5 linked regions of the Homo sapiens genome follow. The protein of the gene in region 1 purifies or fractionates together with the protein of each later gene. This does not show direct contact. Each region holds a gene or a part of one and is shown in the gene's direction. Other genes may lie near its edges. The genes, in order: B3GAT1, DPH6, CASKIN2, BZW1 and USP24.

What was found.
Region 2: the proteins of B3GAT1 (region 1) and DPH6 purify together in Homo sapiens (affinity purification with mass spectrometry; one large-scale study listed by BioGRID and IntAct). This does not show direct contact.
Region 3: the proteins of B3GAT1 (region 1) and CASKIN2 purify together in Homo sapiens (affinity purification with mass spectrometry; one large-scale study listed by BioGRID and IntAct). This does not show direct contact.
Region 4: the proteins of B3GAT1 (region 1) and BZW1 purify together in Homo sapiens (affinity purification with mass spectrometry; one large-scale study listed by BioGRID and IntAct). This does not show direct contact.
Region 5: the proteins of B3GAT1 (region 1) and USP24 purify together in Homo sapiens (affinity purification with mass spectrometry; one large-scale study listed by BioGRID and IntAct). This does not show direct contact.

The regions. Positions count from the first base shown.
Region 1 is NC_000011.10:134,376,571-134,382,684, reverse strand, and holds the end of B3GAT1 (galactosylgalactosylxylosylprotein 3-beta-glucuronosyltransferase 1), read left to right. Parts: intron 1-660; coding exon 661-747; 3' UTR 748-761; intron 762-867; exon of another isoform or gene 868-1,930; intron 1,931-1,937; 3' UTR 1,938-4,177; downstream 4,178-6,114. UniProt on the Homo sapiens protein: Involved in the biosynthesis of L2/HNK-1 carbohydrate epitope on glycoproteins. Can also play a role in glycosaminoglycan biosynthesis. Substrates include asialo-orosomucoid (ASOR), asialo-fetuin, and asialo-neural cell adhesion molecule.
Region 2 is NC_000015.10:35,447,302-35,453,680, reverse strand, and holds part of DPH6 (diphthine--ammonia ligase), read left to right. Parts: intron 1-2,877; coding exon 2,878-2,996; intron 2,997-6,379. UniProt on the Homo sapiens protein: Amidase that may catalyze the last step of diphthamide biosynthesis using ammonium and ATP. Diphthamide biosynthesis consists in the conversion of an L-histidine residue in the translation elongation factor (EEF2) to diphthamide.
Region 3 is NC_000017.11:75,500,976-75,506,742, reverse strand, and holds part of CASKIN2 (caskin-2), read left to right. Parts: intron 1-29; coding exon 30-160; intron 161-329; coding exon 330-438; intron 439-813; coding exon 814-922; intron 923-1,091; coding exon 1,092-1,186; intron 1,187-1,669; coding exon 1,670-1,931; intron 1,932-2,049; coding exon 2,050-2,171; intron 2,172-2,262; coding exon 2,263-2,323; intron 2,324-2,436; coding exon 2,437-2,528; intron 2,529-2,780; coding exon 2,781-2,891; intron 2,892-2,982; coding exon 2,983-3,084; intron 3,085-3,215; coding exon 3,216-3,354; intron 3,355-3,488; coding exon 3,489-4,964; intron 4,965-5,052; coding exon 5,053-5,275; intron 5,276-5,572; coding exon 5,573-5,663; 3' UTR 5,664-5,767.
Region 4 is NC_000002.12:200,812,986-200,819,364, forward strand, and holds part of BZW1 (eIF5-mimic protein 2), read left to right. Parts: intron 1-222; coding exon of another isoform or gene 223-232; coding exon 233-296; intron 297-2,355; coding exon 2,356-2,532; coding exon of another isoform or gene 2,533-2,538; intron 2,539-2,681; coding exon 2,682-2,776; intron 2,777-3,339; coding exon 3,340-3,405; intron 3,406-4,120; coding exon 4,121-4,256; intron 4,257-4,988; coding exon 4,989-5,098; intron 5,099-5,237; coding exon 5,238-5,408; intron 5,409-5,769; coding exon 5,770-5,916; intron 5,917-6,379. UniProt on the Homo sapiens protein: Translation initiation regulator which represses repeat-associated non-AUG (RAN) initiated translation probably by acting as a competitive inhibitor of eukaryotic translation initiation factor 5 (EIF5) function.
Region 5 is NC_000001.11:55,142,986-55,149,364, reverse strand, and holds part of USP24 (ubiquitin carboxyl-terminal hydrolase 24), read left to right. Parts: intron 1-794; coding exon 795-902; intron 903-1,566; coding exon 1,567-1,716; intron 1,717-2,304; coding exon 2,305-2,436; intron 2,437-3,255; coding exon 3,256-3,367; intron 3,368-5,161; coding exon 5,162-5,238; intron 5,239-6,245; coding exon 6,246-6,379. UniProt on the Homo sapiens protein: Ubiquitin-specific protease that regulates cell survival in various contexts through modulating the protein stability of some of its substrates including DDB2, MCL1 or TP53.

The DNA.
Region 1 (6,114 bases):
CTGTGATGCAATGTCTCAAGTACATCCAGACCCTCCCTACAGATCGGGAGAAGGAAACAGAGGCCTCAAAATAGCCTGGGCTTTCTGGAACCCCCTCCCAGGAAGGCAGTGTATCACCTGTAAGGCAGCGACACTGCGGACAGGCAGGGAAAGGGAGAGCAATGGCCACTGGGGAGTTATAACCTCCCACAGAACAGCCGTGCTCCAGCACCTCCCTGCTGAGCACTCATGCACACACACATGCCTACGCGTGCACACATGTGCGCACACACACATGCAGATGCACACACATGCACACATATATGCAGGTGAACATGCACAGACATGCACATATACACATATGCACATGAACATGCATACGTATGCACACACACACACTTGGGAAGTCTTGGGGCTTCTCTTTTCTGTAGTTCTAGACTTCCCATTTCCAGCAGGTATTCCGAAGGCATCACATGTAAAAACAGCAAAAATGAGGGGGTAGTCGAGAGCCACAGAAAATAAATAAAAAACAATTGAGAAAATCTTGATGGAACAATTGAAAAACTCTCGAAGGAAAAGGAGGGGCAGGAGAAATGTTTACACAGTGTGGGAGGGAGCAGGGAGGCAGCAGAGTGAGGTCAGGGGCCTGTCCCACCATGTTTTGCATCTCTGGGCACACAGATCCTGGTGTGGCACACACGGACAGAGAAGCCAGTGCTGGTGAATGAGGGCAAGAAGGGCTTCACTGACCCCTCGGTGGAGATCTGAGCCTCAGGATGCAGGTATGGGCATGACGAGGGTGGGCCACACACTGGGCAGGGCGGCACCAGGTTGGGCCGAATCAACTGTCTCATTCTTTTCCTCTTGGGCTTTCACTGTGGAGGACAGGGCAGATGTGGGCAGGAGTGGAGGGCGTCGTCACCACAGTCCCCTTCCCACTGGGCCACCTGAAAGTATCCAGGCATTAACTTTCACCCACGCAGCTGGGTCCTTCTGCCACCAGACTCTTCAGAGGGTGTCACCTTCCAAACATCTTGCTGATTTTTCTGCTGGCAGTGACGCCTGCACCCCACAAGGCACTGCCATTCAGACTCTCGCTGGCCAGCGTCTGTCCCCCCAAGTCTGCCTCTTCCCCTGTGGATTCCTTCACCACGTGGCCATGGTGAGGACTCACGGACTCGCTGCTCCACAGCAATGAGCCCACGGCTGTCATAGTGAGAGGTAGCGCAGAGTGACAGCACGGACCCAGAGCCCACCTCAGCTCCCAGGACCCCTGCTCTTCACTGTTTGACCTGACTTGACTTTTCTGGGCCTCAGTTTCTTCATCTGTGAAGTAGGTTGCTGAGAGCACCTAGAACAGTTCATGGCACTTAAATCTCATCAGTGTGGCTATTTTTATTCAAGTCTTTAAAGCCCTCTCTGGAAGTAGGCCACAGGATCCACCTACACTTCAGAAGCAAAGAAATGATGTTGAGAGAAGCTAAATGAATGTTCCAAGGTGACACACTGGCACGAGTGAATTGTGCTGGGTGGTTGGCAAAGCCAGGCATTTTCAGGGGCTTTTCTGTGATCTTATCCTGTCTCTTAAAAGCAGCTGGTACTCCTGACTCCCTACTCTAGGTTATGCCAAACAGAGGTTGAGGCCTGAGACAGACATTTGTCCTCTTGCCCTGGAGCTAAGCAATAGCTTCTGTATTGTGTTTGCCCGCAGAGGACCACAGGGTGTCACTCAGTCACCTTGGCCAGCGCCACTTAGAATGCATCTGTACCGAGCCTCACTTCTGCCTCCTGCCCTCACTGCCCTCACTGGAAGCACCTTCCCCACCTGCCCCTCAGAAAGGCCCCCACAGGACCTGGGGGCCTGGGCTTTGCAGAGGTCCTGGTGGCCCTGCCTGGCCATTCCCTCCCCGGCCCCACCCTCAGCCGACACCTCACTCATTCCTCCTCTCCCCTCACAGGAGCCTCCTCCTCAGACCCTGTTCTTGGCCTTCCATCCTCTCCCCACGGCTGATGGTCCCTCCAAGGCCGACTCCTAAGGAATCACCATCACCCTCCTTTCTATTCTGGGGGCTTCTGAGAGAGCCCAGCCTGATGCCAGAACAAAGGACAGAGAATTTAAGCACAGAAATCCCAGACCTGTTGTTCTCTCCATCCAGCGTGACCAGGGCCCGAGAGACCTGATGGCCAGGGTGGGGTGTCCAGCACCAGCCAAGCTGGTGCTCCAGCGCACCTCCCCAGAGCTCCCCGCACTGACGGGGCTGCAGGAGCAGGTGCAGTGGGCGCCCACACTGGCCCTGCAGTGATGCAGGGCGGGAGGGAGATAAGAAGACCCCGCAGTCAAGTGGAGCATGGCCCTCCCTGGCTCCCTGTCCCTGGGCTCAGCACGACCACACAGGACACCCAGCCAGGGAATTCTGAAGACCAGAGAGCAGCCCACGGGCATCACGAGCGCTCTGCTCCTCTCCTGGGCCCCTGCTCTTCCCGAGAGCTGCCCCCAAATCAGACATACCTCTGTGGCTCTCCTCTGGTTCACGTTTACAGAGCATAAGGCTGTCTTGGATCCCAACAGGCACCCAGCCCTGCATGGGGGGAGCCTGGGCCTAATAGGCACCCCCTGTACCTCAGGCTGTGGCGGGAGCAGAGTCCCCCCCTCCGGCCCCTCTTCCTTTACCCCTTCTCCTCCAGCAGTGGCAAAGGGGTAGGCTCTAGAGCCAGCACAGGTCACTGCCTGACCTGGACTAAGAACCCCACGGCCCCACTGTCCACACACTGCCTCCCCACCGCCCACCTCGGCTGCTAGGCCCCTCGCCTGGACTGGACTGGGGAGGGAAAGCGCCTTTTCCTGCAGCTCTTCAGAGCCACAGACCTCAGGGTGGAGTGAGCCCATGGTGGGCAGTGGGCAAGGCGGTGGGTGGTGGGCAAGGTGGGACCTCCTGCAGCCTGGAAAGAGGAGGGAGGCCAAGGCCATTCCCTAACTCCCTCCTGCCCCTGGTCTGAGGAGGAGGGACTCTGGAGTAGCAGAGGGGCTGGGAAAGAGGGGGCAGGGGCTGCTGGGACACTGAGCAGGAGGGAGGCCTGAGCACACTGCTTTGGAAATTATTCTAAACACAAAAAAGGGAAAGAAAATGTTATTTCTCCCTAAGTCAGGAGCATGCAGAGCTAGCCCACCTCATGTCCAGCTGTCCACTTTCCATCCTGGAGAAAGAACAGTGTGCCTCAAACTCCTGCCCTCCCCAGGCCTCTGGGGCCCACTGGAAAGGGCTCTGACCCCCTGGCCCAGCCGGGCTCTCTAGTGGTGATCCGGCTCATTCTCCTGCAAGTTGGAAGCACAATTTTCCCCCCAAGTGGAGGAAAAGGAAAGGGCCCCAGCCTACTGAAGAGGTGTTTATTTTTTAACTAACAGCCTCCCACCCCATTAAGACTCACCAGGAGAGGTCTGAGGGCCATTCAGAACCCACTCCTGAGTGGGTGGGTGGGTGGGACTCAGTCCAGAGACCTAACATTCAGAATATAGCATTGGTTGCCTATTTTGAGATGGATTTAATCTCCCACAGTATTCATGAGACCATCTGATGGAATCAGATCCCTGAGCCACCTTGCAGGACGTTTTCCCCAACCTCTTACACCCTGGATGTCACTTTGGAAACCAAGCCCTTGGAAGCAAGTGGGGTGGCATGGGAGAGAAGGGAGGAGGTGGGCACAGGTGGTGAGCTTATGTGTGGGCACTCTACTGCCTCACAGAAGCCAGCCAAGTGCCAAGGTCAGCTTGGCTGGTCTGAGGCCACCTTCTTAGCCAAAAACCTAGGGTTCATTTTCAGGACTTTGATAATGAACAACAAAATGGGGACTTCTTTGGGCAGATGCTAGGTCAGTTGTTTTCACCTAATATCCTCTTTTAGCTGCATGTATATTTATTTATAATTATAACCCTGGTGGACTGCAGCCTTCATCTTTATTGGGAATGAGTTTGTTATAAATCAGAAATGGGTCCATGATGACCACTGTTTTCCAAACCCAGTCTGTTCCCTGCTCCCTCGCTGGCAAGCCCCACCACACAGGAGTGAGGCCAGGGGCTAGGAGTTCTAAGAACAGAGGCTGGGGTGAGGGTGGCACCCAGGCAGCTGCATCTGGTCTGTTTTAATTTAACTGTATTTAATTTGCTTTCAAAATTAAAAGTCAAATACAGTTTTTAACAGTCCTAATCCTCTTCAGCCCTGCCTTATTTTGTTCTCATTTATTAATTTAGCTACCCAACAAGTATGTATCAGGTGCCTGTTATGAACAGGCATCATTCTAGGAGCCGACACACAGCAGTGAGAAAACAAGGCTCTCATTTTCAAAGAACTGACCCACTGACGAGAGGAGACAGGCAATAACGAATGCATATTATTTCAGATGCAATCTGTTGTATGGAGGATGAGGGTGAGTCGGGGAGACAGAGGTAGCAGTGGAGAGGGTCAGTGCTCTGTAGGGTGACCACAGAGGCCTCCGTGATAAGTGACCCTTGAGCGAAGCAGCAACACCCTGACATGCAGCTCCCCGGGCCCAAGAAGAACGAACTCTCCACCAGGCGGAACAAGCGTTGCTCAGCCTGCTTACAGATCAGCAGGAAGGCCATCGGGCTCAACTGACGGGGCGGGGGCTGCTGGGGGCAACAGCAGTGAGGGATGTGGTGGGCGTGGGAGAAGGGAGTCCCCAGGCACCGGGTGAAACCAGAAGGCAATAGGGGGTCCAGTACGGAGGACTAACATAATCTATCCATCTCTAAGAAGAACTGCCCTGCTCCTCCACGGAGGATAAATGGAGAGGGCAAGGGCAGGTGGAGACGTGGCTCCTGGAATCATCCAGGCCAAGATGCAGTGGGCTGAGTGGGGGCATGGGGTTGGGGCAGAGAGAAGCAGTCAAATTTTGGCCAAGTTTAGGAGGCAGAGCCAGGAGGATCTGCTGCTGGATTGGATGTGGGAGATAAAGAGAGGGGTCCAAAATAGCCCGAGACACAGAACAGCACTGCCATTTCCAGATACAGGGCTGCGTGCAGGAGGGGTAATGTGGGGAAATGGAGCTCTGTGTCAGGTGCCTGTTAGACACATGCAGAAGAAAATGCGCCCCCACACACCTGGAGCTCAGGTGCAGCCCAGCATCGGCGGGCGCGGGTGTCCAACCTGTTTACAAACCACAGGTGCACGGGTGAGACCCTATGCAGTGAGTGTGGACAGAGGAAAGAAACAGCCCAAGGAGTGGGCCAGAGACCCCCAGCATTCAGAGGCTGGATATGAAGAGGGATTCTCCAAAGAGACCTAGATGAGGCCATACCGTGTGGAAGATAATGGAAACATCTTTAGTCAACGCTGGAGAATAAGCTCTGCCAAGAGGTACTTTGATAGAGAAGCTGAGCAATTAACTGGCAGAAAATAAGGGTGAGAATAAGAAGCTGGTGTAGGAAGACCTCACCTTAGGAAACCACAGTGTGTCCTGCTCAGGTCTGCGTGGAAGTGTGATCCAAGGGGCTTCTCCACCTTACAGGAGGATTTGCAGGAAGGTTCCCTTCCATTCCATCACTTTCTGACGGAACCAGCTCATACACAGCTCTGCAGAAGCACACACTCAGGTAAAGCGGGGCAGAAGACCCTGCAGGTGGCTCAGGCCACACCCAAGTAGCCCGAGTCTCATCCACATCTTAGCCCCATGCTTGTCGTTCCGAGGCAGTTCCAGAAGAACTGGTGAGTTTGGGCAAAACCAGGGACTCTGCCCCATGTTGTTCCCAAGCCACTGTCCACAAGCTTTCCTTTAATAAGCTCCATTTAATAAGCCCTTGACCCGGCTCAGCTGCTGGGCTGCACACCACGAATGTCCCCTGCACTCCCCCTGGGCAGCCACACACGGGCAGCAAGCCTGCTGGCCTCAGTGAGCTCCACGGCTCACCATCCCCCAGCCCACCTTCACGGGGCTCCCAGAGCTCTCGCTGTGCCGGGGATGTGTGTGCTACTTGACTTTCTGACTCTTACTGGAGATAATTTGGTTTTGGCAGTAGATGCCAGATGTAGTTTGTGAAGCAAAACTCAACCCCGCAGTTAACTCATATGGAGCGCCCTTGACTGCCTGGCAGATTCTTACCCCCGCCCACCAGCATGAGAA
Region 2 (6,379 bases), on another chromosome or scaffold:
TGATCTTACATTTTAGAGGTGTATCAGAATCTCTGGACGATGGATGATGATGATGGAGTGGGGAAGGAGGTCATGTGTATTTTGAGAAACTTTTCCTTACATTCTACCTAGATGTAGATCTACCGTTGAGAACAACTGATCTGCAGATGGAGATGAATTGCATATCCCTTAAGCCAGACATTAGAAATAATAGTATTGTCATCAAGTTTTAGATCATATTCTCTGAGAATTATTTAGTTTAAAAATTAGTGTTTTTTAAGAAGTTCAAACCCACAGGCTTTAATGGGTAGCCAAACTGGAGATAGGGATGACATCTATTTATGAAAGTTAAAAAGCCAAATAAAAATGTGCTCCTGATTAGGAGGCTGCCCATTACATATATGTGTATATATATATGGAAGAAGGGCACATGTCATGCCCATGGGTAGAGACTTTCTCAAAACACAATCACTGGTACACTTCAACACACGGTTGAACAGATGAACAGACGTTATATTATAAAGCATATCTGCAATTATTTTATCCTTGAAACTTCAAAAGTAATGTTACTGGGAGTCCATTGGTCCACAAACTCAATTTTGAATTAGCCTATGCCCAAATTTTAGTTTGTGTTGTATTATTACTAGTTCTTGCTGTCCTCTCACCCAGTGTTTAATGCCTACTAATCAAAACAGCCTCTCTACCTTTTTAAACTAAGATTTATTTTTTTATGGACAAAAAGTTTTTTCTTCCTGTCCTTATCGTAAAATTCGTGGTTGTTGCTTTGAAATTCCTCAAAATCTCTTGACTATAGACTTAAGTAAAATTTTTTAACCTATTTAAGTTCTTTAACAGTTCAAAATATCATGGCTCAAATAAACTTACTCTGTAAATCACTGCTGAATTTGAACTTGTGACATCTATTAAACACTTTACATTCTGCAATTATGTTTGTATTACATGGGTAGTTCACATTTTATTCTTTTTGTATTTATTAACTGCTTCAGCATTGCTTTAGATGTTCTGAGACATTTTAAAAGGGAAAATTACACGCAACAATCTCTGCAATGAGGAAGGTTTTGGTTTTTTGAAAGTCAGGGTATATGTAAATGAAAAAAATAGTGATATTTTTAAGGCCATGTATGAATAAATGACCAAACATGGTACATTTAATAAGTATTGGGATCTCTGAGAGAGAGAGAGAGAGAGAGAGAGATCAATATAGGCCAGAGAAGTCGGCCAAGCAGCCTTACAGATGCTAGGGACGCTGGGTTTTACTTATAAACCTTATAGACACTGGGTTTTAGAGCTATATTCTTGGTTTGAAATCTGATCTCAGCCAGTTAGTGTATGACTTGGGCAAGTCACTTGGCTTTGACTATCATTTATTGAATACCTGTTTTATCCAGGCATTGTACTACATTATCTATATTACCTTTAATTCATTAAACAATTATAGTCCTCTCTGAGAAAGTGACATTTAAGCAAAGGCACGAAACTAGTGTAATAGGCAAGAATGAGCAGGCAGCAGTGAGTGGTAGGATGGAGTGAGAAGAGAATAAGTAGTAGGAAATAAAGTGCAGGAACTAAACAGGGTGAGATCCATGGAGTGATGGGGAGCCACTGGAGGGTTTTGAGCAGAGGAATCCTATGATCTATTTTATGTCTTCTTTTTTTGTTTGTTTGTTTTTTGAGACAGAGTCTCGCTCTGTCGCCCAGGCTGGAGTGCAGCGGCGCAATCTCGGCTTACGGCAAGCTCCGCCTCCCAGGTTCACGCCATTCTCCTGCCTCAGCCTCCCGAGTAGCTGGGACCACAGGCGCCCGCCACCATGCCTGGCTAATTTTTTGTATTTTTAGTAGAGACGGGGTTTCACCGTGTTAGCCAGGATGGTCTCGATTTCCTGACCTCGTGATCCACCCGCCTTGGCCTCCCAAAGTGCTGGCATTACAGTCGTGAGTCACCGCGCCTGTCCTATTTTATGTCTTAAAAGGATCACATTGGCTGCTGTGTTGAAAATGGATTTTAAAAGGGTGAGGGTGGAAGCAGGGAAGGAAATTAGGATGTTGACATGAGAGAGAATGGTGGCTCAAACGAGGTTGTTAGCAGTGGTGTTAGTGAGGAATGATCACATTCTGCATTGTGGTAGATTGGATGTGGAATGCGAAGAAAAGGAAAGGATGATTTCATTTCACATTTTTTAATCCTCTTAAGAACTTTGAAAGGAACTATTTTTGCCCCTATTTATGAACTAGGAAACTAAGCACAAGGACTTAGATTTTACTTGACTTCAAAAGCCATGCAGCTAGAGTACAAAATGAGGTTTTAAATTCAGATGTGTCTTCACTCCAAAACCTATATTTTTTCTACTTTACCAATAATGGAAAATATCTAGTACAGTGCCTGCAGCATTGTACTTTTTTTCTTACTATTTTCTTTTTATTCAAATTCTTAAAAAAAAATTCAAAGTTAGTAGATAAGAATAGTTCACATAACTGTAGCTATTGTTAATTTAATAAATATGTGGCTATTTTATTAGGATAAATTATTGGCCCACTTTACATATGCTTCAAAATTTTGATACCCATGAAAGTTTTAAAAATGAGAGTATACTGGCATTTGTAAATTCTTTTACATAGATTTCTAAACTAAGAGTCTTACTAAAATTAATATTTCTAGTGTGCCTGGAAATTTCATTTTTATCAGTTTATGCATAACCCATGGAAATTAAATATGTTTATGTTGTATATATAAACATTATGCAAAATATGTTTTTAAAAGCATTTTCAATGCTAAAATCCTTGAACGAAGCATTATGTTTCAAATCAAAGTAATTGCTGTGGATCCAAGTATAAAACATTAAGAGATCATCTGACTTTCTTTTTCTTTTTCTTTTGTAGGTGTAAAAGGCTTAATCTCCAGCCTTTAGCTTATCTTTGGCAGAGAAACCAGGAAGATTTGCTCAGAGAGATGATATCATCTAACATTCAAGCAATGATCATCAAAGTAGCAGCTTTGGGTATGCAGCCAAACTATCAAGGGAGCTGTTTGTTGCCACATAGATGATCTCAGTTCACTAATAAGTAGTTAAAATGAACAAAGAAAACTGATTTAGAATATAAAAATGTGGAGTCACAGCTGAAGAAATTGAGTAAGCACCTTCCTTGCATAAAGAAAAGGAAGTTTTAAAGTGGTCTTTTGACCATTTGCCGAAGTGATTACTAGTAAGGCTTTTTTTTTTTTTTTTAACATATAACAGGTTCTAAAACTGATATTGTATTATAGTCCTTCATTTTAAGTTCTTTTTTTTTTAGGGTTTGGAATTTAGGCTTGTAGGAAACAGGAAATACAAGGGTTATTTTTGTTTTGTTTTGAGGTTTTTTGGAAGCTTTTTATAATATGTATTTGACACAAAACATTTTCCTTGTATTTTTTAGCATATTTTGAATAATGCTAAAATAGAATGATGGTTTTGTTTTTGTTATAAAAAATAAATAGGGTACTGGTTTTTGTTGGGGATGGTGAGAAAATCATGTTTGAGAAAAAGTTATCTGATTAGTTAGCATAGACACAGCAGGCAGGTGGTAATCTGATTCAAGTATGGACATTACATATGAGCACATTTAATTTATTTGGAATTTCTATAATTATATTCATTTTTGAGAAACCGTAGGGTTTGAGCCCAGTCTGTTCATTTCGTGAACCTGTTATAGAAAATGCCCTGAAACCTGAGAGTTCCCAAAGCCTAAATCATGTACCTCATTTGAAAGTGTTTACCTTGCAGATCTCTGAAATAACAAGGTCTCAAGCTGTAGAAGATTTTACAGATACATTCAGTTTTTAAATAAAATTAAGAGAAATAGTACAGACCCCATAATATTTCTCCATGGTAAATACCAAGCTACTGTATTCTTGCTGAAGTTGAGGTGTTGTCTTCAGTTGAAGCCTTTATTTAGTGAATCTGTAGTTGATCTCCTTAGCTGTTAAAACAAGAAAGATTGAGTGATATTATGTTTTTATTTCTGAGAAAAGGTTGCTGAGCAGCTCTCATGATTAACGTTATTATATTTGTCATATGAATTTCTATGTGACTCTGTACAGAGTATTCCCTCTTGCTTTTTCTTTGTCTCTCACTCTCTCTTTGAATTTTCTAAGATTACATAATTCCATAATGAAGTTCACGTGACGTCTCACTGAAAGGTACACATACTATTCCTTTTACTGCCCGATAGATAAAAGACTGGATTAGGACCCAGAGAGACCTCCCTTATTGAAAAGATAGTCAAAGAATTTGACCTTATTGCCATCTTTTAATAGTATATAACCGATATTGTGTGTTCTTTCATTTCTATCTGTGCCTCTCTGTAGGGATTAGAGATGGGGAATTAGCTTTATCAAGCCTTTGGGTAAAATGTAAAAACTGAGCTGATTTGTCTTTGGCATCTCAGTAACAAAAATATAGATCTGATTTTAACATTTACAGCACTGCCTGTGTGCTGACTGCCTATAGGTGTGCAAAGATGAAAGTTATTCTTTAGAATAATATTAAAGAAAGGTTTATTAAATGGCACAGTACTTCTGAAGACATAGAAACATATAAATGATGCAATATAGGTTGCTAAGCCTTTTTCCTCCCATTTAAAATTATCAGAACAATTTTAAATGGATTTAAGCCAAAAAAAAGGGACTTTTTTTGGATTTAAGCAAAAAAAAAAAAAATGAGACAATAAGACCTTTCTGTGGGGGAGAGGGATCAGTAAAATTTTGTGGACCATTTTTCTATGAAATGGTCTTATAATAGAAAAAGGTCAGTTCTACATGAATGCATACAAATATATTTTTTATAATTATGGTATGTAACCTTTATGTCTTATAGGCATCAATGAACTCATAAAATTTCTGGCTTCTTTGTTTCATTATAATGTTTTAAGGGACTCATCCATATTATTGACTGAAGCAATAGTGTGTTTATTTTTATTGTAGTATAGTGTTCCCTTGTGGGAGACTGTAATTTAATTAAATTTAATTAACACCACAATTTAATTGTCCATTCTATTATTGATGACATATAGGTAGTATCCAGTTTGGCACTGTGATAAACAGTGCTGCCACGAAGTGGTCATCTTACACATTTTCTATCCCAGACCTAGAACATCCTTTTTTTCAGGAAGCCCTGATTTCTTTGAATGTGAAATGATATATGTCTGTATGTGTATATCTAATGACTCATGAGTTCATGATATTTCACAATCAAATTCAAGACAACATAAGGATTATCATAATTCTGTATTCCATCACTGCACTCTTTCTTCCACAGTGAATCTTGATTATCAAGGTCACAAGAGATATTATTTATTAGAAAATCCCATAATTTTTGGGAACAAAAAGACCAAATAGCAGATCTATTATCCATTCTTTCCAGTAACTGGGGTAGGCTTCCTGGAAAGAAAGAAGAAAGAACTTCTATAATCTTTCTATAAACATATAATTATAGACCTCATGGCAAAAAACAAACAAAGAAACAAAAAATCACTAATGGTATTTACTAGAGGGGAAGAGTATCTTTGGACTGCTTTTAGCAGGATATATCTAGTTGCTAAAAAAGAGAGAGAAATGATAAAGGAAAAACGTGAGACCACTTTTACCTATTACTGGAAAACCTCCTGTTTCTTGAAAGATATATTTGTTTGCAAAGTAACTAAATTGATCACTAGAAAAACTATACTGGTTTAAGGGTTAGTTTGTTCAGTTAAATGATGGTGTAGTAACATTGACTATGAAAGGAAATAATGCTAGGACTCTACTTATAAGCTTTCTAGGATTGCGATATAGGAATGAGATGATGGGGGAGGAGGCAAGTACACAACTATATATCTTTCCCATTTCGTAGATTTTTTTTTTGTTAGTTTTGCCTGATCCAATGGTCCTAGGCTCGAGTTTAAAGTTGCACATACCAAAGGAAAGTGTTGTCAATGCACAAAACACAATATCAATACATTACATTGACAGTGCATATTCTTAAAGGCCTTTAGGGGTATGGATAACTTCACTCTGTGTAGGCAAATTAAGGCCTATCCATAAACACAAGCCAAGTGTCTTGTGATTCTTATCTGTCAAATCCTGTAATATCTGCCAAGGAGAAGTGCTAACAAGGCTGCTGTTTTACTGTCCCTGTGGGTTTATAATACAACCGTTGAGCCAGTTAGCCCAATCATGGGGAAAAGGGTGTGGGTCAAAACAGGTAATAGATGGAAATGGCGGGGGGGGACGTATAAGAGATAGAAAGGCATTATAAGTGAATTCAAGTTCTGTGGAGAGCTGTAACCATGTGACCTTCCATGGCAGAGCCTCAGAGCTAGAAAATAATAAGGTATTTGGTATCTCTCCGTGGTAAATACCAAG
Region 3 (5,767 bases), on another chromosome or scaffold:
AGGCTCTAACTGGGCACTGGGTGCTGCAGGTGGCCCAGCTGCTTCTGAACAGCCACTTATGTGTGGCACTGCTGGAGGGTGAGGCCAAAGACCCGTGTGACCCCAACTACACCACGCCCCTGCACTTGGCTGCCAAGAATGGCCACAGAGAAGTCATCAGGTACCCTTGGGGTCCCCTCGCTTCCTCATCACCTGCCTGCGGGACCATCGGTGCCCCTCAGTGCTCTCCCCCACTGCCCTTTTCACCCGGGCTCTCCATCTCCCAGGCCCCCAGCAGTCAGCACCCCCTCCTACGCCACCTCCCCCGTGACTCCCCCCGTCCACTGCAGGCAGCTCCTGAGAGCTGGGATCGAGATCAACCGCCAGACCAAGACGGGTACGGCGCTCCACGAGGCCGCACTGTATGGCAAGACCGAGGTGGTGCGGCTGCTTCTGGAGGTGGGTATGGGCCCCTGCTCCCTCGCAGGTGTCCATGGAGCCTCTGCCCTGTGCCCCTGACTGGCTGGGGAGGTACGGGACGGAGGACTCCAGCGTGGTTTTTGCATGGGCGTCAGGAAAGAGGCCTGACTTCCTTCTGAATGGTGCCGAGGCGGTGCAGATGGATCGGGGGCAGACCAACCTGATTGGCACCCCAGATCTGCCTCTTACTAGCTGAGTGAACTTGAGCTTGTCCTTGACTGAGTCCCTGAGCCTCTATGTCCTCATCTGTAAAATCGGAAAATGGTAATAGTACCTATGTCCCGGGTAGCTGAGAGAATCGGGTGAGGGGTGTCAAAGTGCTTAGCGTGTGCTCATGTGACACTGTGCACCCAGGGAGGTGTGGACGTGAACATCCGGAATACGTATAACCAGACGGCGCTGGACATAGTGAATCAGTTCACCACCTCCCAGGCCAGCCGGGAAATCAAGCAGCTACTGCGGGGTGAGTGCGGGGGAGGATACCCTGCCCAGGGGGCCTGGGGCCGCTCAAGTGGTACCAGGATGTGGAGGGGGAGTGGACGTCCCTGGGGGAGGGTTGTCAAGGGCATGAGGGGTGGGAAGATGCCCTAAGGACCCTTAGATGACACCTGTCCCCCACCCCGTTTTCTTAGAGGCCTCAGGGATCCTGAAGGTCCGAGCGCTCAAGGATTTCTGGAACCTCCACGATCCCACTGCTCTCAATGTCCGGGCAGGGGATGTCATCACGGTGAGGGACCCCAAGCAGGCATTCCTTTGCAAATACAAATGATTGCTGTTACTTATTTGGGCACCTGCTATGTTACCACGTTCTGCTCTGAGGTCTCTATATGCACCCTCATTTAATTCTTCTTAAAGCCAGGGAAGGCAGTGCTGTTAGCATTTCTTCTTTACAGATGACAAAATTGAGAATTAAACAAAATAAAATCAAGAGAAATTCAAGTGACTTGCCCAAGGTCACACAGCTAGCAAGTAGTGGAGCTGTGATTTGACCACGGGCTGCCACTGGGGCTCGCCCTGGAGGCACAGGGGAGATTGAGCTGGCTGCTGGCAGCAGGGGCGGAACTTGGGCCAGTGTGGGCATCAGAGGCCAGCTCCTTAGGGGTAGGGAAAGAGCTGGACCAGGGTTGCCGGACCGCAGCTGCAGGGACAACCGTTTGCCACTTGCCTGGTGCTGGGAGTGACCGTCCCCGCCCCCCACCCCTGGCCGCAGGTGCTAGAACAGCATCCCGACGGCCGCTGGAAGGGCCACATCCACGAGAGCCAGAGGGGCACAGACCGCATAGGCTACTTCCCCCCGGGCATTGTCGAGGTGGTCAGCAAGCGGGTGGGCATCCCTGCAGCCCGCCTCCCCTCCGCACCCACCCCCCTGCGCCCAGGCTTCTCCCGGACACCGCAGCCTCCTGCCGAAGAACCCCCGCACCCTCTTACCTACAGCCAGCTTCCTCGGGTGGGCCTCAGCCCAGACAGCCCAGGTACATCCTCCCAGGGGGCAGTGCTGGGCACTGTGTGGGCGTGTGGCCTGGGCAAGCTGCCAGACAGCTGTCAGAGCGACACTTGGGACTCTGACCCCTTGGCTTCTGCCCCCCACAGCAGGTGACAGGAATAGTGTGGGCAGTGAGGGCAGCGTGGGCAGCATCCGCAGTGCCGGCAGCGGGCAGAGCTCTGAGGGCACTAATGGCCATGGCCCTGGCCTCCTGATTGAGAACGCCCAGGTAGGATGATGGGGTCACGGACCAGGTCAGGGCTCACTCCCCACTGCCAGTTCCCCAAATGCTGAGTTGGCTCCTGCCCTGTCTCCTCCAGCCACTGCCCTCTGCTGGAGAGGACCAGGTGCTGCCAGGACTCCACCCGCCGTCCCTGGCAGGTAGGAAGGGTCAGGGGACCTGGGTTGGCTAGGAGAGGTGCAAGTAAGGAGGCCGAGGGTGGGCACCCCTTCCTCCTGCCACCTTTCCATTCCATTTTTCTCTCTCCTTGAAGACAACCTGAGCCACCGCCCTCTGGCCAACTGCCGCTCTGGGGAGCAGATCTTCACCCAGGACGTGCGGCCAGAACAGCTGCTGGAGGGGAAGGTGTGACCTCCACGGGGTGCACCGTGGGCCTCGGGGGGGAAGGTGTGACCTCCACGGGGTGCACCGTGGGCCTCGGGGGGGAAGGTGTGACCTCCACGGGGTGCACTGTGGGCCTCGGGGTGGGTAGGGCAGGGTAGAGGCAAGAGCCTCTGTATGGACTGAAGCCCCGCTCAGGCAGGTCCTGAGCCCCTGGTGGGGGCTAGGGCCTTGGTCCAGCTCCTGCTAATTCTGCCCCCTTCCCCCACCCCGCAGGACGCGCAGGCCATTCATAACTGGCTAAGCGAGTTCCAGCTGGAGGGCTACACTGCCCACTTTCTGCAGGCCGGCTATGATGTGCCTACCATCAGCCGCATGACACCTGAGGTGGGTGCTGCAGCCGGGAAGCAGCACCCAGCGGGCGGGGGAGGGCCCAGCAGGCGGGGGAGGGGCCTGATGGCCAGACTTTGTGTGGCAGGACCTGACGGCCATCGGGGTGACCAAGCCTGGGCACAGGAAGAAGATCGCCTCAGAGATCGCTCAGCTCAGCATCGCCGAGTGGCTGCCCAGCTACATCCCAGTGAGCCATCAAGGGTGGCTGGGGAGTGGGGCACGTGCTGTCACCCTCAGCTGTGGCTTTGCGGTGCCTTTTCTCCTCTGGCTGGGGGCGGAGGCTGGCTGGGAGTTGTTCTGAGGACGGTGCTCTTCCAGACGGACCTGCTGGAGTGGCTGTGTGCACTGGGGCTGCCACAGTACCACAAGCAGCTGGTGAGCAGCGGCTACGACTCCATGGGGCTGGTGGCCGACCTCACCTGGGAGGAGCTGCAGGAGATTGGGGTCAACAAGCTCGGTAAGGACTGTCCTGAGGCCTGGCTGGGCCCCCACCTGCCTCCGGGGTCTCCAAGAGAAGACAGTATGGGGCCCAGCGGTGACCAGGACAACCCCAGCCCCAGCTAACCTTGCCACTTCCGTCCCCCATCTCAGGGCATCAGAAGAAGCTCATGCTGGGGGTGAAGCGGCTGGCGGAGCTTCGGCGGGGCCTGCTGCAGGGGGAGGCCCTCAGCGAAGGCGGGCGCCGGCTGGCCAAGGGTCCGGAGCTGATGGCCATCGAGGGACTGGAGAACGGAGAAGGCCCAGCTACAGCTGGCCCACGGCTCCTCACCTTCCAGGGCAGCGAACTAAGCCCAGAGCTACAGGCGGCCATGGCAGGGGGTGGCCCTGAACCACTCCCCCTCCCACCTGCCCGCTCTCCCAGCCAGGAGAGCATCGGGGCACGCTCACGGGGGTCTGGCCACTCACAGGAACAGCCTGCCCCACAGCCCAGCGGTGGAGATCCCAGCCCCCCCCAGGAGAGGAACCTCCCAGAGGGCACAGAGCGGCCCCCTAAGCTTTGTTCTTCACTTCCTGGCCAAGGACCCCCACCCTATGTTTTTATGTACCCCCAGGGCTCACCCTCTAGCCCGGCCCCAGGGCCACCTCCTGGCGCACCCTGGGCCTTCTCCTACTTGGCCGGGCCCCCTGCCACTCCCCCAGACCCGCCTCGACCTAAGCGCCGGTCCCACAGCCTAAGCCGCCCTGGCCCCACAGAGGGGGATGCTGAGGGGGAGGCCGAAGGGCCAGTGGGCAGCACCCTAGGCAGTTATGCTACCCTTACCCGGCGGCCAGGACGCAGTGCCCTTGTCCGGACCAGTCCTAGTGTGACCCCAACCCCAGCTCGGGGGACTCCTCGCAGCCAGTCCTTTGCCCTGCGGGCCCGGCGCAAAGGCCCCCCGCCCCCGCCCCCCAAGCGCCTCAGCTCCGTCTCTGGCCCCAGCCCGGAGCCACCTCCACTAGATGAGAGCCCAGGGCCCAAGGAAGGGGCCACAGGGCCCCGAAGGCGAACACTGAGTGAACCTGCTGGCCCCTCAGAGCCCCCTGGCCCACCTGCCCCGGCTGGGCCCGCGTCAGACACGGAGGAGGAGGAGCCAGGCCCTGAGGGGACGCCCCCATCTCGGGGCAGCTCTGGGGAAGGGCTGCCGTTTGCAGAGGAAGGGAACCTGACCATCAAACAGCGCCCGAAGCCCGCTGGCCCCCCGCCCCGAGAGACACCCGTGCCCCCCGGCCTCGATTTCAACCTCACGGAATCAGACACTGTTAAGCGGAGGCCCAAGTGCCGGGAGAGAGAGCCACTGCAGACCGCACTGCTGGCCTTCGGAGTGGCCAGTGCCACGCCTGGCCCCGCTGCCCCACTGCCTTCCCCAACTCCTGGCGAGTCTCCTCCAGCTTCTAGCCTTCCCCAGCCCGAGCCCAGCAGCCTTCCAGCCCAAGGAGTTCCAACCCCCCTTGCTCCCAGCCCCGCCATGCAGCCTCCAGTGCCGCCCTGCCCAGGGCCAGGTCTGGAAAGCTCAGCAGCTAGTCGGTGGAATGGGGAGACAGAACCCCCGGCCGCCCCTGCTGCCCTCCTCAAGGTGCCCGGAGCAGGTAAGAGGGGAGGCCTGTGGGAGAGTCACTGCTGGCAGGGTTGTGTCTGACCCAGCCAAGTCCCAAGCCAACCTTTTTGTCTCTGCAGGAACAGCCCCCAAGCCTGTGTCGGTGGCCTGCACCCAGCTGGCATTTTCTGGCCCTAAGCTAGCGCCCCGGCTCGGCCCCCGCCCAGTGCCTCCTCCACGGCCTGAGAGCACTGGGACTGTGGGCCCAGGCCAGGCCCAGCAGAGACTGGAGCAGACCAGCTCGTCCCTGGCAGCTGCACTGAGAGCCGCAGAGAAGAGCATTGGCACCAAGGAGCAAGAGGGGTGAGGGGGGCCGGATGGGGAGGGAGAGAAGGCTGCAGAGAAACAGTGCTCCCTGCATCCTCTGCCCAGGGATCATGGGGATGTTGGAGGGGGACATTGCAGGCACTAACGGGATAAGAGGCCAGGTGTTGAAATCACCTAGATCAGGGAATCCTGGTGGCTACCATTTAAGAGGCACAGGAGCCTGGCCGGTCCCTTGCCTCCCTGAGCCTCTGGGAGCTATGACAGCTCCCTGCCCCAGGGCCAGTGGGGTGCAGGCCACTGGCTGATCTGACCGCATCCTTCCCCTTGCTGCAGCACCCCCAGCGCCTCCACCAAGCACATTCTGGATGACATCAGCACCATGTTCGACGCCCTGGCTGACCAGCTGGACGCCATGCTGGACTGAGCCCTCCAGCAGTGCCCACTGTGACCTGCCGAAGTCCACTGCCTTTGCCCCAGCACAGAAGAGGCCCCTGCCACCCTAGGGACGGGCCAAGGGCTGGTCAGGCT
Region 4 (6,379 bases), on another chromosome or scaffold:
ACTAATTTGAAGGGTTTCTTGTAGAGAGAAATGCACATTTTGACGTACATTTGATTCAAGTGCAGGTAATTCTTTGTGCCTGTATCGGGTATAATTGCCAGCTTTATATCCTGAGAGTGGGTGTTCCATTTGATTCATATGTGACTAGACTAAGGTTTGATGTTTTGCTTTAAAAATTAGTATTATGGCACTGATATTAAGGCTTTATTTCTCCTTTCCTAGGGTGTCTTTTATGAATAATCAAAAGCAGCAAAAGCCAACGCTATCAGGCCAGCGTTTTAAAACTAGAAAAAGAGGTAAATATTTACGTTTTAATGTCTCTCTTCAAACCTCCAGAACATCTTGTGTATCTTGCCTTCTCTGACAGGTACTTGCATATTACTAAAGCCTCAAAAGAAGATACCAGAAAGAAACTTGAATTTCTCGTTGACTGCCATTTCACATACACCTTTAATATTTCTACTGCTTTACTGCTCAAGCCTTAATTTTTAGTATCAATATATCTCTAAGCCGGTTAGTGAATCTTCTTTTCGGTGTGAAGGTAAAATATTTTTAAAAATAAAAATAAGGGCTCTGTTTTCACTAGCAGGCAGTCTCATTTAAGCAAACTTAAATGAGCAAAAATGTTAATTTATAAAAGGAGAACTCCTAATGTAGTCACCCAGATTTTGTGAAGATTTGTGAGAGAAAACTCAGACTTCACCCATGGAAGTTAATTGTGGAACAGGATTCACATTGTAATGTCTTTTGAAATACAGACTTAGTAGAAAAAGTATTAGAATTATATTACTATTTTTTTTTTGCATTAGTGTGTACTTAGGTGAGTATTGAATTCTGTAGCAAAGTGCTGTGCTAGTGATATAAAGCTAAATAAGACGTAGTCTCAGATATATTTTTACTGTTTTTGGTCAAAAGCATATTAACCTTGTTTTACAGGTGGTTTTGAGGAAATGAAGAACTAGGTCAGCTACTGGTTATAAGTTGTGTTTTTCTTTTTCTTCCTTAAGTAGCAGACATTTTGAGATATATATTGTAGAATTTTAAAATCACTAATCATAGGCTGTCTGTCCCCTTGTAGTAGTGGTGGGGAGACCAAAGTGTGATTTGATTCTAATCTTTGCAGATTCATTTAGATTTAGCTGGTAAATTTTCTTAAGGAGCTGGAGTTGTAAACTAGAACAGTTTGGCAGTAAAATGGGAAAGTGTATCTCTTGAATATGTGGGTTACTGATGTTACCTTGATACAAATAATAGCAAGTAGCTTTAGCATTCTTATTATTAGCATCAGGGAGAGATGTAACTTCCCCGGTTCCAGATAGAGATGATTCGTGGCCTGGCTGTTGATGGTTAGGGTACTGGGTAGGGTATACAACACTCCCTGTCTGGGACTGAGGGAGTTTCCAGACACAAGACTTTCAGTGCTAAAACCAGGAAAGTGCTGGGCACTCAGAGGTGTTTGTCACCCTAGTACTGTGTGAACAGATGTCATCTAGCCTAGATTGGGAAAGCAAAACCCTATTATGAAGTGTGTGAAAGCAACTCAGTAAAGGTCAGGTATGTGCACAAGGCTGTGGTCTGGGAGCTTTCTATTTTATTAATGTCATTTGGTATTTACAACAACTTTATGGGATAGGTACTATTCTTATCCCCATTTTACAGTAGGGGAATTCTGGCATGGCGAGTGAGACTATTTGCTTGAATTCAGGTGGTTAAATGGTGGTCAGGATTTGAATCAGGCAGTTTAACTCCAGAGCCCATGTACTGAACTACTACACAATATAGTCTCTTGATTACCTAATTTCTCTGACTCTCAGTTTTCCTTCTGAATAATAGGGGGAAAAATCTGCCTCACAAGGTTGTTAACAGGATTAAAGCAAATGCTTAATATAGTTTCTGTCATTGGGTGCTCATTAAATGTACTTTCTAAAGCTCACCTTCATAAATGCCAAAGGATTGGTTCAATTTTTTTGTTTGTTTAATATTATGGACATTTAAGGAAAAGGATCAAGAGCTCCAGTGTCTGGACAAAACCCAAAGGAATAAAATGTACCTGTTAGAGGATGGCCTAAATTTTGGAAAAGCCAAGAGGCAGTAGGAGGGCGTTCCCAGTAGAAATTGGCTTATGGCAGTAGGAACACAAGACACTAGCACATTTAGATCACTTGTGAAATTATTTGAAAAGTTGCACAATTCTTGTGAGTGGGCCATCTTGTCTTACACTTGCAGAGGGGAAACATGCAAAGGATGTGAATTTAATCTAACTTATTTAACAATTGCATCTTCATAAGGTGATAGTTTTGTGGCATTTTGGTAAATCTTTTAAAACTAAATGTTTTGGGTCCCTTGTCCCCCCAGATGAAAAAGAGAGGTTTGACCCTACTCAGTTTCAAGACTGTATTATTCAAGGCTTAACTGAAACCGGTACTGATTTGGAAGCAGTAGCTAAGTTTCTTGATGCTTCTGGAGCAAAACTTGATTACCGTCGATATGCAGAAACACTCTTTGACATTCTGGTGGCTGGTGGAATGCTGGGTAAGTGTCTGTGGTTTGTGGGCTTAATAATTTAGAAAGGTATAATATATGGAGATTATGGAGAGTCTAGAATATGAACTATTTGGCAAACTTGTTAAAATGGAGTGATTTTTTTGGTTTTGTTGTATTTTGGTTTTATCCAACTTTAGCCCCAGGTGGTACACTGGCAGATGACATGATGCGTACAGATGTCTGCGTGTTTGCAGCCCAAGAAGATCTAGAGACCATGCAAGCATTTGCTCAGGTAAATGAAACTTTACATAATTGTTTTCAGTTGGCTACTATCCATGTGGTATATTTGAGGAATATTCTACTTTTAAGAGTTGTGGTTAGAAAGTTGAAGGAATTTGATTTTAAATTTTAGGGATACTGTTCTTGGTGCAACGGGATGAATTAGAAACTTAAGGTGTGTTAAGGCGAACAAAATAGGGAAAAATGAAATTAACTCTTCTGTTCCTATTTGTCCTGAAATTACTCAATTTTTAAGAAAAATGTCAAGCTGGAAAAGTCAGTTTCGTATTGTGATTTCTCTAGTTTATCTGCATACATTTATTTTTAAAGTTAAATGAGTTGTGAGCTGATTAGCTTGTTAATCAAGATCTCATTGGAAAGTTTCATACGTAGTTATGTTTGTGTTACTGTAAGCAAAGAATTAAAGTACATCTAACCTGGACATTCTTATGTGTCACTAGGAATTCTTCTCAAGCTGGTTTAAGCAGCTCATAAACTTACATCGAGTGAAAGGTTTACTACTTTGCTATTCTAGAAATATATGAAGTTACTGAATTCATTTAATGTTCTTCATAGGTTTTTAACAAGTTAATCAGGCGCTACAAATACCTGGAGAAAGGTTTTGAAGATGAAGTAAAAAAGGTATGAGTAATAATGTACTTTGTGGAAAAGAAAAAAATAGGGTTAGAAAGAGGAATGTTAAATCCTAATTCCGCCACAGATTTGGAGTAATTTTGCTTGTTTGTTTGGGTTGTTTTTTGAGACAGAGCCTCACTCTGTGTCCCAGGCTGGGGGTGCAGTGGCTCAGTCTCAGCTCACTGCAGCCTTTGCCTCCCGGGTTCAAGCGATTCTCGTGCCTCAGCCTCCCGAGTAGCTGGGATTACAGGCATGTGCCACCATGCCCAGCTAATTTTCTGTTTTTAGTAGAGACAGGGTTTCACCATGTTGGCTAGGCTGGCCTTGAACTCCTGGCCTCAAGTGATCTGCCCTCGGCCTCCCAAAGTGCTGGGGTTATAGGTGTGAGCCAACACGCCTGGCCCAATATTGCATATAGATGCCCAGAAAACTTGATATGTTTATCAAGCACCAGGCACTGTTCTAATGATACTAATTCACTCAATGTTTATAAAAACCCTGTGAGGCAAGTTTTATTATCCACATTTTACATGTGAGGTGCAGAGGTTAAGTAACTTGCCCGAGATCATTCAGCTAATGAGTATTGTAACTTAGATGTAAACTTGGATGGTTAGATCCCAGAGCCCACGTATTGAACAGGTAGCCAGTATAACATGCTTTACTGCTTCTCTTATTGTAATGCAGTTGCTGTTTTAACCCTTAATTGTTTTACTTTTTACAGCTGCTGCTGTTCTTGAAGGGTTTTTCAGAGTCGGAGAGGAACAAGCTAGCTATGTTGACTGGTGTTCTTCTGGCTAATGGAACACTTAATGCATCCATTCTTAATAGCCTTTATAATGAAAATTTGGTTAAAGAAGGTAATCAGCCTTAAAGGATGGTCTTCAGTTGACTCAGAGTGGGGTGGATAAGAGCATGGTTTACTGTTCATAGATGTGACTTCTGTGAAAGTCTTCGTTTATTAACCAGCCTTAAATTTAATAAGTTCAGTCTAATTCACTAGACATTTAATGAATACCTTTGGCATCCAGGTTTAATGGCTTTCTTTAGGCATACAACAGATACCCAGATTTAGACAAAATGTTGTTATATGTAATAAAAATAAAATGAGAAATGCTGTGGGAACCCCAGAAGAGATTAATACCAATTGGGAGACTTGGAGAAGATGACGTTTGGGGAAAATGTCAAGCTGGAAGGGAAAATCAGTTCCCTGTTTGGCTCCAATTGTCGGATTATTCTCTACAGTAATTTTTTTGAAGCTTTTTTTTTTTTAAAAAACTGCTTGCAGTAGTGAGTATTTAAGTTACCTTACTGTAATTCTCACAACAGTCTTGTCAAGTGTAGAGACTGTTGCCCTCAATTTATACTTTGGAAAACACTTTAAGTAACTTGGCCAAGAATATACAATTTGCAAGTGGTAGACTAGGGAGATTGGAGAAGTGATAAACTGTGGCCCAGGAAAGTTCAGGGTTAAGTTTGTGAGGAAAGTCAGTAATCCCATGTGATTGAACTATGAAGGGAAGGATATAGGGGGACACAGTGATTGAAACCAGGGAAGGTACTTCTGTTAATTAAGCTATTTTCTTTTACAGGAGTTTCAGCAGCTTTTGCTGTGAAGCTCTTTAAATCATGGATAAATGAAAAAGATATCAATGCAGTAGCTGCAAGTCTTCGGAAAGTCAGCATGGATAACAGACTGATGGTTGGTAACTTTTTTTCATTCTTCCCATTCTTGCCAAGGATGTAAATGAGAGAAATTTCTCATTTTTAAGACTGTGAAAAGAAAGTGTTTTTCTTAATCTGATTTAAAGAAAGTTTAACCAGATAAATTCTTCTTTTAGGAACTCTTTCCTGCCAATAAGCAAAGTGTTGAACACTTCACAAAATATTTTACTGAGGCAGGCTTGAAAGAGCTTTCAGAATATGTTCGGAATCAGCAAACCATCGGAGCTCGTAAGGAGCTCCAGAAAGAACTTCAAGAACAGATGTCCCGTGGTGATCCATTTAAGGATGTAAGTTTTTGTTTAAACCGTCTTTTTATGGCTAAGCTTCTGGCATAGAGATTTTCACTAATTTGAGGAACTTACTTCACCAGGATGAGATTGAGTTAATAGTAACAGGATGTTATACTGGAACTTTGCCTCATTCTTTTGCATATGCTTCTTCAGTGCCTGACTGAGGCCCAGAAATACAAGAGACTGGAGCTCAGGGCACCTTTCAGTTGTAAAGGTCTCTTTTTATATGTGGTACACATGTGGTTGCCAGTTGCATGGAAAAGGAGTTGTTAGTTTTTGTTAAAGGTCTAAACTTGATGTGTGAAGTATGTACATAATCAAAACTGACTTCTGTTACTAAATTTGGATTCATTTGCAGATAATTTTATATGTCAAGGAGGAGATGAAAAAAAACAACATCCCAGAGCCAGTTGTCATCGGAATAGTCTGGTCAAGTGTAATGAGCACTGTGGAATGGAACAAAAAAGAGGAGCTTGTAGCAGAGCAAGCCATCAAGCACTTGAAGGTATTAGAACTATGCCTTGACAAAACAAACTATTCTGCTTTCACGTGGTGATAAGTGAACTGTGACTATATTTTTCTAAGAGGATTTATCACATCCTGTGGTTCCTAGGGATGGCCCACCAGTAAATAAACAAATAGTAACATTAGCTATTGATGATAATGCTCTGAATTGGGCTGTGGTTCACAGGTTAAAAACAAGAATATGGCCTGGCCAGGCACAATGGCTCACGCCTGTAAACCCAGCACTTTGGGAGGCAAGGGCAGGAGGATTGCTTGAGCTCAGTTTAAGACGTGCCTGGGCAACATAGTGAGACCTCATCTCTACTAAAAATCACAAAAAATAGCCAGTCGTGGTGGCGCATGCCTGTAGTCCCAACTACTCAGGAGGCTGAGGCAGAGGATCTCTTGAGCCCTGGAGATCAAGACTGCAGTGAGCTTATGATGGCTTTGTCAGACAAAGCCTG
Region 5 (6,379 bases), on another chromosome or scaffold:
TTTTACTCAGCTTTTTGGTTAGAGATTTAATAGTCATGTTTAAACTGAAATTCTTACCAAATTTTGAAATTTCATAGTTTGAAAGATGCTATTTATTAAAAAGTAGTTCTCTTTATAAAGAGTATTACACAAACAGTAGACTTTTTAGATCTGTACTATGACGATCTGGATTGTCATATACCAGTTTCAGAAATAATATATTTGGAAGTGTTTTGAAAAATGTACAGTGTAAGTGTAAAATGTCTGTAATAATAAAAATAGAATTACCTCTTATGAAAGTGTTTTAACTAGGAAATACAGATTATGAATATTTTCTTTAATATTTAGACCACTACCAGTGTCTTGATCATATCATTGGTATCCTAGTCATATAATCATAGAAAGCAATATTCTTACTCCATTTTACTTACCATGCAGTTCAGTGTTATCCAAGTTAAGCTTTGGCCATCAGTTTATTTTGTGTCAACATGACTTAGCAGCCTGTGCTACTTAATCTATCCTCTGAAGTTGCTAATTCCTTGTTGTCTGTTTTTTGCTGATGTACCCCTGTACATTTACTGTCACTTCACATCCACTCCTGTTTGCAGTTCTTAGCTTTAGGAAATTGCATGCAGAATAAGAAGTTGAAGACTGAATTATGAGTGCATGGAGATAAGCTCTAAATGGTCAATATAAAGAGTAAAATAATAAAATGTGTAACAGTAAACCTGATTGACTTGAAATTTTTTATAGCTAATAAATGAATCTGCTGTTTATTTCTAAATTTAATTAATGTAACTTCTTTTTAACTCTAGTCATCTCAGCTTAATAATCCCCAGTTTGTATGGGTGGTACCAGCTTTGCGTCAGCTCCATGAAATTACTCGCTCATTCATAAAACAAACCTATCAAAAGCAAGACAAGGTAAGGGTATAGCTATTTTTTATTATTATAGTTACTTGCATAACTTTTACAATAACAAAACATGGCTAAAATTGCTGAGTTTATAGTCACTATCTTTATGTTTATTGATGTAATTCACTTATATCATCTAATAATCTTGAGTTTAAGCATCATTCTGCTTTCATTTCTGCAGAGCTTTTTTTTTTTTTTAATCTCCTTAACTCATTTTCTTTTTATTTGCTTAATTTTCAAATAGTTAAGCCAGTTTTTAAAAGTTAGAATGGCATTTTAAAAATTGGTTTGAAAAGATTAAAAAGCTTGTTGCTTGTTTTGTATCACAAAAAGATTAGTTTGCTTAAAGTACTAGAGTTTCCTCAATGTATAGACTTGGGAAGGATGATCCAGAAAAGTATACAGGAAGTGAAATAGTTATTTTTATAGGCTTTTTAAAAAAATAAATAAAATGAATATTTTTAGATGGAAAACATTAGTAGTTTATTAATTTTCTAGTAAATGTACATACCAGATTGATTTTATTTACTTTTGTGTAGGAAATACGAATGAGGAAATTCTTATGTTTGCTTTGTCTCATCTAGGACTACATCTTTAAATAGCAGCTTGTATTAAACCAGCAAAATAACTGCAAATTCTCATTACCACTTTTCTTTTTGTTATTTTCGCCAAGAGCATTATTCAAGACTTGAAGAAGAATTTTGAAATAGTGAAATTGGTAACGGGAAGTTTGATCGCTTGTCATCGGCTTGCAGCTGCTGTGGCCGGGCCTGGAGGCTTAAGTGGCTCGACACTAGTGGATGGCCGGTACACTTACCGGGAGGTATCAGGCCTTGTGTTTTTGCTTCATGATTTACAACATTAATTTGACCTTTTTATACTTATACTATAAAAAGAATTTTTGTTAGCTGTAACTATAAAGAGGTTGTATGAGGTATCTTTGTAGTGAGGGAACAGTTTTGTATCTTGGTGTTTGTGAGTTATCTTTCATATGATGAAGGAATAAACATCTTTTTTTTGTCTTTGATCTGAAATAATAATTGCTAATTCAGTGGATAATGGGTTTTGTTTTTCAAATCAATTGATTAGTAACATTATTGTTTTTTAAAAAATTAGGAAAAAAATCTTAACTCACCAGTTGTGAGTTTGTAGTGTTTTACTTTGAGATTGCTGAAATTACATTTTATTGACATCCAAAATCAACTGAATTTCTAATAGACTTGAGATAGATAGCTTCTATTACATTGTACTATCAATTTGTAAACAGAATTCTAATATTTACTTTACCCTAAATTATATGAAAAAGGATTAAGTAAAACTGTTGTTAAAACTTAAAGTTTTGTTTTGTTTTAATGTTGCTTTTAGGAATGAATGCCTGGAGTTAACTAATTAGCATTATTTCTTTTTGCAGTATTTAGAGGCACATCTAAAATTTCTAGCGTTTTTCTTGCAAGAAGCTACTCTGTATCTGGGCTGGAATCGTGCCAAGGAGATCTGGGAGTGTCTTGTAACTGGCCAGGATGTTTGTGAATTAGATAGAGAGGTAAGAAGGTGGTATTGTGGATAAAGTAAGGCAGAAATATTTAAATATTTCACTTTTTCTGTGTGTCTCACATCTTCTAAACACTTTTCAGTTTATATAAGCATAAATAGTATGGGCCAAGAACTGTAAGTGCTGAAAAAATGTTTTATATAACATATATTCATGATAAAAATAAATGTATGAGTTCTTTGGTAATTTTGATACCATTCTGGATAAAATACCAAATTTAACCAAATGAGTATAAAGAATTCTAGATATATTTAAGTTTTTTCCCTTCCATATGAAACTAATTTTAAGTTGCCAACAGAAAACTTTGAGTTCCTATAATGATGTTGCACCCCAAAAACAGTAAAGAAGAATTAGTACCTGGCCACATTTTTTTGTAAACTATAATTAAGCAGCCAAAGATAGATTAAATCAGGAACAGAACACCTGCCTTGACATTTTCTAGGAGTAAATTTCATTTTCCTCATCTTATTTGACAGAATAATATTAACTACTTCCTAGACTTGTCGAAAGGCTTCACTATTGTGATAGTGCCCAGCATAGTGCCTGTTGTAAGCAGGCAGTAAATGTTGATGGAAAAACCCAAGTATAAAATCCAGTGAAAAGTATGAGTAGATATTTTTATTATCTAGAAGAAAGATTGCTAGTAACTGCTTCATTTAATTTCAGAATTCCAAGCATTTTAGCTTTGAGTGGTATTTTGACAGTATAAACATTTGAAGTATTAAAATGTATCTTTACTTTTCCAGTTTGGAATATGTATGTGCCTGAAATGGATCTTAGTTATAGGGTGATATTCGTCTTATTCCACAGATGTGTTTTGAATGGTTTACAAAAGGACAGCATGATCTTGAGAGTGATGTTCAGCAGCAGCTCTTCAAGGAGAAAATTCTTAAATTGGAGTCATATGAAATCACTATGAATGGTAGGAAAAAACTTAAAATCATTTTTTTCAGTACTTTTAAGTAAGAAGTGTTATTCTTTCCTTTACTTTTAATCCTCCTTCTCAGAAGCAACTAAACAGTTAGGAATATCCTTCTAGAATTTTTCTTGTGCATCTAAAGACATATTTAGTACTCAAATTCCTTTCTACATGAATGGTATCTTATAATTAGTTTTTAAATCATATGGCCTGCTAGATCAAATTGCCAAATTGTCTTTTTAAAATTTCTTAGTACAAAAGGGTTCATTAAGGTAAAAATGTATCAAGGTATAGAAATCCTCCTTTCAGATGTTTCTTTTCATTGAATTTTTAAATTGAGATATAATTTACATACCATGAAACTCACTTTTTAAAGTGTACAAATGGTGGCTTTTAGTATATTCACAAAATTATGTAACCTTCACTCTGTTCCAATCCCAGAACATTTTCATTACCCCAAAAATAAACCTATACCCATTAACAGTCACTTTCCATTCATTTTATCCAGCCTCTAATCTATTTTCTGTCTTTATGGATTAGCCTAATCTGGACATTTGATATGAATGGAGTCATACACTGTGATCTGTCGTCTCTGGCTTCTTTCATTGTACTAAGGCATAATGTTTTCAGGGTTCGCCCAGGTTGTAGCATGTATCAGTACTTCGTTCCTTTTTATGGCTTTATAATATTCCACTGTGTGGGTATACCATATTTTATTTATCCATTCTTGAACTAATGGACATTTTGATTGTTGCCACTTTTTGGGTGTTACGGTTAATACTGCTGTAAACATTCATGTACAAGTTTTTCAGTGGGTACGAGTTTGCATTTCTCTTGGATGTATATCTAGAAGTCAGATTGTTCTGACATATAATTAACCTTTCAGGAACTGTCTGTTTTGCAAAGTGCCACGCTATTTCGTAATCCCACCAGCAATATATGAGGGTTCCAATTTCTTCACATCCTCAACAATACTTGTTATTATCTGCCTTTTTTTATTTTAGACATCGTAATGGGTATAAAGTGGTATCAAAATTTAATGGGTGTTTTTTTGGTTTGTTTGTTTGAGATGGAGTCTTACTCTTGTCGCCCAGGCTGGAGTGCAGTGGCACCATCCTGGCTCACTGCAACCTCCACTTCCCAGGTTCATGTGATTCTCCTGCCTCAGCTTCCCGAGTAGCTGGGATTATAGGCGCATGCCACCATGCCTGGCTAATTTTTTATTTTTAGTAGAGACAGGGTTTCACCATGTTGGCCAGGCTGGTCTCAAACTCCAGACCTCAGGTGATCCTCCTGCTTCAGCCTCCCACAGTGCTGAGATTACAGGCTTGAGCCACCGCACCCGGCCAAATCTAATGGTTTTAATGTGCACTTCTCTGGTGACTAATTATATTAAGCATCTATTTATATGTGCTTATTGGCCATTTGTTTATATTCTTTAGAGAAATCTTAAAATCTTTTGCCCATTTTAAAATTGGTTTGTCTTTTAATTCTTGAGTTGCAAGGGTTCTTTATATATTCTGGGTACTAGCTCCTTATCAGATAGTTGATTTGCAAGTATTTTCTTCCATTATGTGAGTTGTCTTTTCACTTTCTTGTTAATGTCATTTGAAGCACTTAATTTTGATTATATCTGATTTACTAATATTTTCTTTTGTTGCTTCTGCTTTGGTACCATATCTAAGAAGCCAATGCCAAGAGTCTTATGGTTTTAGTTCTTGATCCACTTTGAGTCTTTTCATTGATTATCTGTGTTACGTAGAGTACATGAATTTATTTGGCATTCTATAATTACAGGTTTTAACTTATTTAAAACTTTTTTTGAAAATGTGAATCTTTGTGATCATCGATTGAAAAGACAAGGAGCTCAGTTGGTAAGTACGTTATTCTCAAATCTAGATAGTTTGGATAATCTAGTATAACTTGATATTCAGCAAAAAAAAAAGTGTTATAATTGAGAGATAACATGGATTTTTTTGGTAAAGAACAGCATCTCCTTGACTGCCAGCTTCTATGTTGATGACAGAGCTTCTCCTAGTGTAAGGGAGGCTCCTACCTGCACTACCATGCCTCACCAGCTACCTGCGAGGACACTGCTCTCTCTCACATCTCTCTGTTTCTGGCTGATCTAGGGACAGCCAGTGGCCTCCTGTGGCCACATGAATGCAGAGCAGGGATAGTTCACCTAAGCTTCGAACTCCTCAGATCCAGCAATTCACATGTACCTAAAAAAGCAAGAACAGTCTTCGTCCTGGGATCACAGTGGCAGGGATTTGGGGAGAAAAATTGAGGAATAGACAGTGAGGCAGGAAAACTAGGATGTACAGCTTATGTTTATATTTACACATGCTCCTTTAAAAAAAAAAAAGGCTTATTAACTCTTTTTCCAAGTCCTTTTTATTCAGGACATGGCTTCCTGGGTGGTTAGAATTTTTACAAGATTTTACAAGCCCTGGGTCCTACTGTTTACTACTGAGCTTTAGAAAGACCAGATTGAGCCCCAAGAATTAGTGACCACTTCTGGCTTGACTGTTTCCTTTTGAAGAAAAGCTCCTGAAGATGGTGCCCATCTCACTCCTGCTCTATTTCTGCTTCAGTAGCCTGTTGGGCTGTGTGTCCAGTTTGGGTCTAGGGATGTCTGAAGAGATATCTCTGTACCTATCCTGGTTCCCGTGGAATTTGCCCAGTGCTTCTGTGGTTGGTTGCTTTTTAAAGTTCCATATCAGTATAATATTATTTTCATATAGCTGAGGTTTTGCAGCCTTAATTCATATTGAACTGAAGAGGTGTGGACTCATGATGTAACAAAATAATTATCTGTGATTTTGTAACTTTGTGATCTTGATATGCTTTATAATTTAATTTTTTTTCTTTTGAACAGTATGTAGAAAAGCTGGAATTGATAGGAATGGATTTCATTTGGAAAATAGCCATGGAATCACCTGATGAAGAAATTGCTAATGAAGCTATTCAGCTAATCATAAACTATAGTTACATTAATCTAAATCCTAGATT